2 separate regions of the Homo sapiens genome follow, and region 2 is linked to region 1. Evidence: fine-mapped expression QTL. A gene starts in region 1. The other region holds a variant in brackets. All regions are shown on one strand. Distances are between the middles of the regions.

Region 1 (4,387 bases):
ACCTCTGCCTCCTGGGACCAAGCAATCCTCCCACCTACAGGCACACCACACCCGGCTAATTTTTGTATTTTTTGTAGAGACACGAGGGTTTTACCACATTGCCCAGGCTGGCTGCAAACCCCTTTTAAATGCACGTTAGTGTGAATAATTAAAAAACTGCTGAGTTCAAAATATGATCATATGTCATCTTTTTATTTGCTATTAGTAGATAAAGACAGTTTAACTTAGCCTTAGTTCAAAAGTACCTTCTGGAGAAACTAAGTTACTTAGGTTTTGTTTTGAAGCAGTTTGAAAATCACATTAGAAATAAATACAGTAATCCACCTGGACAACATGTCGGTATCCCATCTCCACAAAAAATACAAAAATTAATCGGGTGGTGGTGCACGCCTGAGGTCCCAGCTACTCGGAGGCCGAGGCGGGAGGATGGTTTGGGCCTGGGAGGTGGAGGCTGCAGAGAGCGATGATTGCGCTACTGCACTCCAGCCTGGATAAGAGGGAGACCCCGTCTAAAAAAAAAAAAAAGAAGAAAGACAAAGAAATAAAAACAGTAAGCGATTCCCACATAAACGCACTGCTTTGAGGCACTGAAAAATAATCAGCATATTTCTTCAGTTTTGCTAAAGCCTAAGCAATGTTATTGCGCACTTGGGGAATAGAAAGAGTTTAGGGGTGTGCAAAAATCTCGGGAAAATAAAACTTTTTCGAAGGGAACCAACGGGTTCCATCCCCTAAATACTGCACGAGGCTGCCCAAAGATCCCCGTGTGATATTTTTTAATTATGGAAGATAATTACATTCCTCAGAGCTAACCGAGATTCCACCACACAGGATTGTGTAGAAACTCCTGCTTTATTTATGCACAAGCTCGATCACATGATGCAGGAGCTCTCCACTGGTGGGGGTTGGGGGCTCTGGGATACACTGCGAGGGTCCCACTCCCGGCTCTGTACGGCCTATGGTGTGTCCGTGCACAATGACGGCCTGGGCCTCCATTTGCTCCTCCGTGAAGTGGGCGTCAGACGTTTCCCACGGCCCCTCGGTCCTTGGTGAGAGCTAAAAGGAGACAATGTGTGTACAACGCGCAGCACCCGGCCCAGCAGTCTCCAGCTGCCCGGTCCCACGATGGGGGCCGCCCGGGCGGGCAGTCACCCGTGGCTCCGAGGCAGCCGCCCGCCCCCGGCTCGGGGGAACCGGACCCTGCCTCCTCCCCGCCGCGCCGCGCCGCGCCGCCAGCCGGCTGCTCCCGCCCGGCCCGGCCCCGCCCGCGCAGCGCCCCTCGCAGCTGCCCAGCCTGGGAGCGCTCGACGTCCCGGCTCCGCCGGGCAACCCGGGGCGTGCAGGGGGAGCTCCACCCCGGAATCTTGGAGGTCCCCGGGCTCCCTCGGGCCGGGCAGGCCCCACAGGCGGCCGCGGGCGGGCGGGCGAGGGCGGCGGGCCGGGTCCCCTGCACCAAGGAGGCCGGGCTCCGCAGTCCCCAGTCCAGGCCCAACAGGGAGGGGGCCGCGCCCTCCTCATGCGGTCGGCGCCGGGGGCCGCGGGAGCCCGGGCTGCCCCGGGCCGAGGTGGAGCAGAGGCAGAACCAGGGTGCGGGCTTCCAGGCAGGGCGCCTACGTCCTCACCGATCAGCCCGACTCCAAGCATCAGCTGAGTGTCCGCCACCTCGGCCGCAGCCATCTTCCGCCGCCGCGGCGCGCAGCTCTGGCTGCCGCCTGCAGGACCGGCCTCGCACCCGAACCCCGCCCCGCCCGCCGTAGGGCCCGCCCCCATCACAGGCCCCGCCTCCCTCCCCGGCCCATCATAAGCCCCGCCTCCCTCCCCGGACCATCACAGGCCCCGCCTCCCGCTGTAGGACCCGCCTCCCTCCCGCCCCGCCCCATCACAGGACCATCAACCCCCCCCGTCGGCCCCGCCCCACCCGCAGGCCCACCTATTCCAGCCCCAGTCCTCCCTGCCAGGACCTGCTCAGTGCAGCTCCACTCGTCTTCTGCCCGTGGCCCTTCGCCCTTGGAAACCTCCTTGAGTCTCCGCAGCCTGCCTCAATTTCTCTAATCCAGCTGTTCATCCTTCTTCTTCTCAATCCACTCCAATCTTTCTTCCCGTCGTAGGCTTTCCTTGTTCTACCTCTGCCCTCTGGTCAAGCTCAAAAGAACAGGTCACCTTGTTCCTAAAAAGAGGCGTCCTGAGGATGGAGGAAGGGTCTCCATCCATTCCTTCATCCAGCCACCCCCAAAACAAAACAAAACAAAAATTGAGGGCCTAATAAGGCACTGGGGATACCTTATAGGGCTGAACAAGACAGAGCAGTCCACTGGGGAAGACAGACAATTGGCGAGTAGAATAAATAATCCAGGCCAGGTGAGGTGGCTCACGCCTCTGATCCCAACACGATGGGAGGCCAAGGCAGGAGCATCACTTGAGGTCAGGAGTTCGAGATCAGCCTTGGCAACATAGTGAGACCCATCTCTACAAAAAAAATTTAAAAATTAGCCAGGCATAGTGGCATGCACCTGTAGTCCCAGCTACTCTCAGGCTGAGGCAGGAAAATCATTTGAGCCCAGGATTTTGAGGCTGCAGTGAGCTGTGATCCTGCCACTCACTCCAGCCTGGGTGACAGAGTGAGACCCTGTCTCAAAAATAAATAAATAGATAAATAGATGACAGATAGATAGATAATAGTAAAAAAGCTCAGAATGATATGTGCCCTGGAGGCAACGATATGTGCCCTGGAGGCAGTGTGTTAGAGAGTGGAGGTGTGCTGCTCTAAAATGGGTGTCAAGAAAGGCTTCTCTGAGAAAGGGATATTTGAACTGAGATCTGAATGATAGTAACGACTCAGACATTGGAAGATTTGGCTCCAAGATTCCTCCTCTGGATCTACTGTCTGCCCCAACCCCAAGTCACACAGAGCTAATTAGGGAGGGTCCTTGGTGTCTGCAGGAATACAATCCCACCCTCATCTTTTTTTCTTTTTTCTTTTTTTTTTTTTTTTTTTGAGATGGAGTCTTGTTCAGTTGCCCGGCCTGGAGTGCAATAGCGCGATCTCGGCTCACTGCAACCTCCGCCTCTCGGTTTTAAGGGATTCTCCTGCCTCAGCCTCCTGCGTAGCTGGGATTACAGGCGTGAGCCACTGCGCCTGTTTTTTTCTTTTTTCTTTCTTTTTTTTTTGGAGACAGTTTCTCGCTATGTTGCCCAGGCTGCAATTTATACATTGGAGTATATTTAGGTGTGTATATGGCATTCCTGTTTCTCTCACTAAACTGAACCCCTGGAAGGCAGCACCCTGAACTACGTGCCCTTCTATTCTCTGGGCTTCCTGTTGTAGTATAACTGTTAATGTGTCTAGTTTTCACAGAAAAGAAGCAGGTGTTTAGAGGCTGAGGAGTGGGACACAGATGTGGAATCAGTTTGGAAGCCAACTAGAAACTTGCACTAGGTGGGGCACGGTGGCTCACGCCTGTAATCCTAGCACTTTGGGAGGCTGAGGTGGGTGGATCACGAGGTCAGGAGATTGAGACCAACCCGGCTAAAACGGTGAAACCCTGTCTCTACTAAAAATACAAAAAATTAGCCGGGCGTGGTGGCAGGTGCCTGTAGTCCCAGCTACTTGTGAGGCTGAGGCAGGAGAATGGCGTGAACCCGGGAGGCGGAGCTTGCAGTGAGCCGAGATCACGCCACTGCACTCCAGCCTGGGCGACAGAGCGAGACTCCATCTCAAAAACAAACAAACAAAAAATCACAAAAATTAGCTAGGCATGGTGGCAGGTGCCTGTAATCCCAGCTACTCAGGAAGCTGAGGCAGACTGGCTTGAACCCAAGAGAGGACGGTTGCAGTGAGCCAAGATCGCGCCACTGCATTCCAGCCTGGGCGACAGAGTGAGACTCCATCTCAGAAAAAAAAAGAAAAGAAATGAGGATGAAGACGATGATGAACAGATAATTAAACAAAGGAGAGGGAGATGATAGTGGGTGCAGGGAGGGGAAAGATAATGAGGGGTGTGTCCAGGCTCCAGTGAGTGGGATGATACCTGGAATTGACACCTCCTTCCCTCCTGTTTCTCCACAAGTGCTGTCTTACCTGCCAGACAGGTACACCAGAGTGAAGGGAAAAGGAATAGAGGGTGGAGAGAGCAGAGGCGACGCATCCCCAATCTTTAAAAGTAAGACTGACCTCTGCGCTGTCACAGACAGATGGAGCTGGGGTGTGGAAACAGACAACCTGAGTTCCAACCCCCTTGCCCATCTTAGCTGCGAAACCTCACACATGTTTCCTATCTTTTCTGTGCATGTTTTCTCAGTGATCAAATGGAGCTAACCATACTTTCCTCCGTGACTCTCCCAATAAAGATTTGAATCAGGGAAAATCTTTATGCTAGTTTTATTGATA
Region 2 (4,387 bases), 82 kb after region 1:
ATGCGGAGAATGGGAAACGGGTGCCGTGGTGTCATCTCACACCCCCTGCCTTGGGCTAAAGTCTCCCAGCTGGTAATAATACCACCACCATCAGCACCAGGTGCTTGACATGCACTATTCCATGTGCCCCCCACCCCCAACCCTGCCCCGCAAGGCAGGTGCGCTGGTGACCTGTTGGAGACGGGGGCAAAGCTCAGCATGGAGCCCAAGGCTGAGAAGCTCAGGAGCAGCAGGACTGAGATTTGCACCCATTTTTCTCTCACTCCCCGAACCTGGGTTTGTGCCTCCTTGGATGCACCCGGTCATTCTTGGGACTTCTGGGGTCCAGATGTGCGGGAGACTGGCCAGCAACACACAGCGGCAGGGGCAGGAGAGGACACATTCCAGTCCGTGTCAGCAATGTCCCCTGAACAAAACCAACCCCATTTAAAAGCAGTCTGGGTGTTTCTGTTTATCCAGTAGTGGGTACTTTGGTAAAGTGAGTAATCCTTTCTCCCTCCAGCACTTGCCCTCCTCCCTGCCATGTGGTTTTCTTTTAGAAATCTGGAGTGTCCCAATTTTGTTTAAAGCAGGAGCTGCCTGGAGGCTGACAGGCGGAAGGGCAGATGTCCCTGGGCTGATGATGCTGATAATAGCAATAACAGTAGCTCACAGGTGCTGAGCCCTTACCGTGCACTAAGCATTCACTCATATCATTTCTGAAATCCTCCCAGCAGGCCTACAATGATAAGCATTTCACAAAAGGGAAAATGAGGTTTTGGGAGGCTAAAAGCATGCCCAGCAGCTCACAGCTAGCTGGTAGGTGGCATTTCTTCAAGGCCCGCACTGTTAACCCTCACACCTCCTTGATCATCCCCTGGCCCGTGGATACTCATTCATTTGGAATTCACTACATCCGGCCTCCCCACCTCCTCCTGTGCTTCCCTAAATGGGGCCATCAGCCTTCTCTCACCCGTCGTCAATCCCTGCTGTCTGCAGGGGGAGGGAAGTAAAAAGCTGACAGGAAGGAGTTACATGTAAAATGGTAACCTGTAGATTGAGACTGTTCTCCAACAGGTCTGAGGGCTCTAGGCAGAGGGAGGGGAAGCGGGGATATGAGGGCTGTGGAAAGGATGGGACCAGACTGCCAAGCAAAGAATGCTATGTGTGGTTCTGCAGGTTGTGTACAGTTCTGCAGGTTGTGTACTGCACAACCGCTTCCCATCTAAGGGGGCACCTTTACTTCATAGACATAGTAACTCTGTGATCATTTTCTGGCCGACCTTGAGTAAAGTATCTTCTAACGAAATCAGTATATTATGACACTTCACTGACAGATGGAAAAAGATACCTTGTGGAAGAAGTGTCTTTTCCTAATTTGCTCAAAGCCCAAAGCTTTGGCTCTGGCCGAGGTGTGAAATGCTGAGCTTCTTGAAGGCGGGCCTCAAGTTTGACATTAGTACCCCTTTTCTTGTTTCCCCATTCTGAAGCTTCAGGTGGAGAGTCTCCTGAATTCAGCTGATCAGGTGCTGGGCACAGTTCTGCCCTGGTTGTTACTGGTGGATCAGCTGCCCCTTGGGACTAACATTTAACTTTATTTTTGAGACAGTCTTGCTCTGTCGCCCAGGCTGGAATGCAGTGGCACGAGCTTGGCTCACTGCAACCTCTGCCTCCTGGGTTCAAGCGATTCTTCTGTCTCAGCCTCCTGAGTAGCTGGGACTACAGGCATGCACCACCACGCCTGGCTAATTTTCATATTTTTAGTAGAGATGGGGTTTTGCCATGTTGCTCAGGTTGGTCTAGAACTCCTGGGCTCAAGCAGTCCGCCCGCCTCACCCTCCCAAAGTGCTGGGATTACAGGCGTGAGCCACCTCGCTGGGCCGGGACTAACATTTTAAAGATTGCTCAAGTCATTTTAGCCATCTTCTTCTGGTCTTATCTGATTTGCACTGATCCTCTCCCAGCCGTCCTGAGTTCTCCAGGGATTTTGTGTGCTCGGAGCTGCCTCTCCACAGTTGTGTCTGTCTTCAGGCTTCTACGGCTTAGTGACCAGAAGGCAGGTGGGCCCCAGGGAGCGGATGGAGGATCCAAGCTCTGTATAAATTGAGTAGCCTCGAGCAAAATCAGTTCCTGTCTCTGGATCTTAGTTTTAAATTTCAGTTTAAAATAATTGGGCTGGCCTAAGTGATTTCTTGGCCCTTTCCATCTCTAAAATTCATTTATTTACCATCAAGGTCTGGGGATAAGTGGCAAATAAGACTGACGTACTTCTGACCTCATGGAGCTTACACTCGAATTGGGCAGACAGACAAGTAAACAGGCGATGACACTTGGTGGGGGCAGGTTCGCTTCCTGTTGCGGTTGTAACAAATTACCACCCATATAGTGGCTGAAAACAACACACTGATTTTCTCAGCGCTCTAGATGTCAGAAGTCCACAGTGGGTCTCACTGGGCTGAATTCCCTCTGGAGGCTCTTGGCGGGGAACCTGTTTCCTTACCTTTCCCAGCGTCTGGAGGCTGCCTGCCATTCCTGTGGTTC[G/A]TGGCCTTTCCCTTCTCAAAACCCAGGGATAGCAGGTAGCTGAGTCCTTTCCACGTGGCACCTCTTTGTTCTTTCTTCTGTCTCCCTCCTCCACCTTCCAGGACCCTGGTGGTCCCACTGGGTTCACTGGGATAATGCAGAATGTGCAGAATGATCTCCCAATTCTAACATCTTTTTTTGTTTGTTTTTGAGACAGAGTCTCGCTCCATCACCCAGGCTGGAGTGCAGTGGTGCAATGTCGGCTCACTGCAACCTCTGCCTCCCATATTCAAGCGATTCTCTTGCCTCAGCCTTCCGAGTAGCTGGAATTACAGGTGCGTGCCACCATGCCCAGCTAATTTTTGTATTTTTAGTAGAGACAGGGTTTTGCCATGTTGGCCAGGCTGGTCTCAAACTCCTGGCCTCAAGTGATCCACCTGCCTCGGCCTCCCAAAGTGCTGGGATTACATGTGTGAGCCACTGCGCCAGGCCCCTATTCTAACATCATTTAATTAGCAACCTTAATTCCACCTGGAACCTCAGTTCTCCTTGGCCATGTCAGGTAACAGATCCACAGGTTGTAGGAATTAATATGCCTTTTGGGGTCATTATTCAGCTTACCACGGGGAAAGTGCAGAGGGCTGTGAACTCCCTGGCAACAGCACCCCACCCACACACGGGTGTGTCATGACTCCCAAGACCTTGGCATAGCCAGAGTGCAGCTGGGCTGGGGAGGTCAGGTTTCCTCTGTCAGTTGGGACCTGACACAGTACAGGGGAAGCTGTGAGGTGAGGGAGCACTACACAAAGTGTGTGTGTGTGTGTGTGTGTGTGTCCCTCAGGCAGATGGAAAGTGATTGCAGAGGAAGGGTCTGAGTTGCAAAGAGGATTAGTGAGCAAAGAAAGGCATACTTGTGTGGGAGACTCAACATACTTAAAATATTAGGTTGGTGCAAAAGTAATTGCGGTTTTAACTCTTTAATGGCAAAAACCACAATTACTTTTGCACCAAACTAATAATAATGATGTTATTTAATTTGTCATTAAAACAAAAAAAGAGCCAAGTGCAACAAAAATACCCAGCAATAATAGAACAAGCATCAGGAGTGAGAGACTGGAGTGAAGTGCTCCAAAACCCTTATATTGTTCAAGGAGAGGGGAAAGATACTAACTTTAATATTTTATAACCTATGGGAAATTTCAAGAATTACAGAAGTAAAGATCATAGCATAATGCATCTTTTTTTTTTTTTTTTTTTTTTGGAGACAGAGTCTTGCTTTGTCGCCCAGGCTGGAGTGCAGTGGCGCAATCTCGGCTCACTGCAAGCTCCGCCTCCCGGGTTCACGCCATTCTCCTGCCTCAGCCTGCCGAGTAGCTGGGACTACAGGCGCCTGCCACCGCGCCCGGCTAATTTTTTGTATTTTTAGTAGAGACGGGGTTTCACCGTGTTAGCCAGGATGGTCTCGATCTCCTGACCTTGTGATCTGCCCACCTTGGCCTCCCAAAGTACTGGGATTACAGGCGTGAGCCACCACACCCGGCCAGCATAATGAATCTTAACCCAGTTTACCCTTAATAACTGGCTACTCTTATTTTTAACTATCTCCACACCTGTTTTTTTTTTTCCCTATCTCCTATACTATGGATTATTTTGGAGAAAATCTTGACTATCAATATTAATTAAATTTAGATTTTGAGAGGTTAAGCATGTAAGTTAACATTTTTAGGGAACCAATTTGGAAAAAAAGAGAAAGGAAATAGAGGGTATAACTTTCTTTCTTTTCTTTTTTTTTTTAGACAGGGTCTTGCTCTGTCACCCAGGCTGGAGTGCAGTGGCATGATCACAACTCACTGCAATCTCAACCTTCCCAGCTCAGGTGATTCTCCCA

The links. PIP is the estimated chance that this variant, and not a neighbour inherited with it, causes the effect.
Region 2: its variant is the best candidate, but not a certain one, in a credible set for the expression of DENND10 in blood mononuclear cells (TOPMed, PIP 0.76).

The regions. Positions count from the first base shown.
Region 1 is chr10:119,101,433-119,105,819 of GRCh38, reverse strand. DENND10 (DENN domain containing 10) reads right to left here and starts at 1,707. Exons shown (of 9, transcript NM_207009.4): 1 at 1,623-1,707. The coding sequence starts at 1,677. RefSeq lists a silencer at 1,139-1,918.
Region 2 is chr10:119,019,571-119,023,957 of GRCh38, reverse strand. The region is part of intron 2 of LINC03036 (long intergenic non-protein coding RNA 3036); the gene reads left to right. Among named protein-coding and RNA genes, the nearest start is that of LINC03036, 7.8 kb to the left of the region's middle. RefSeq lists enhancers at 366-1,008, 1,009-1,651. The variant G/A (reference allele first, on the strand shown) is at 2,521.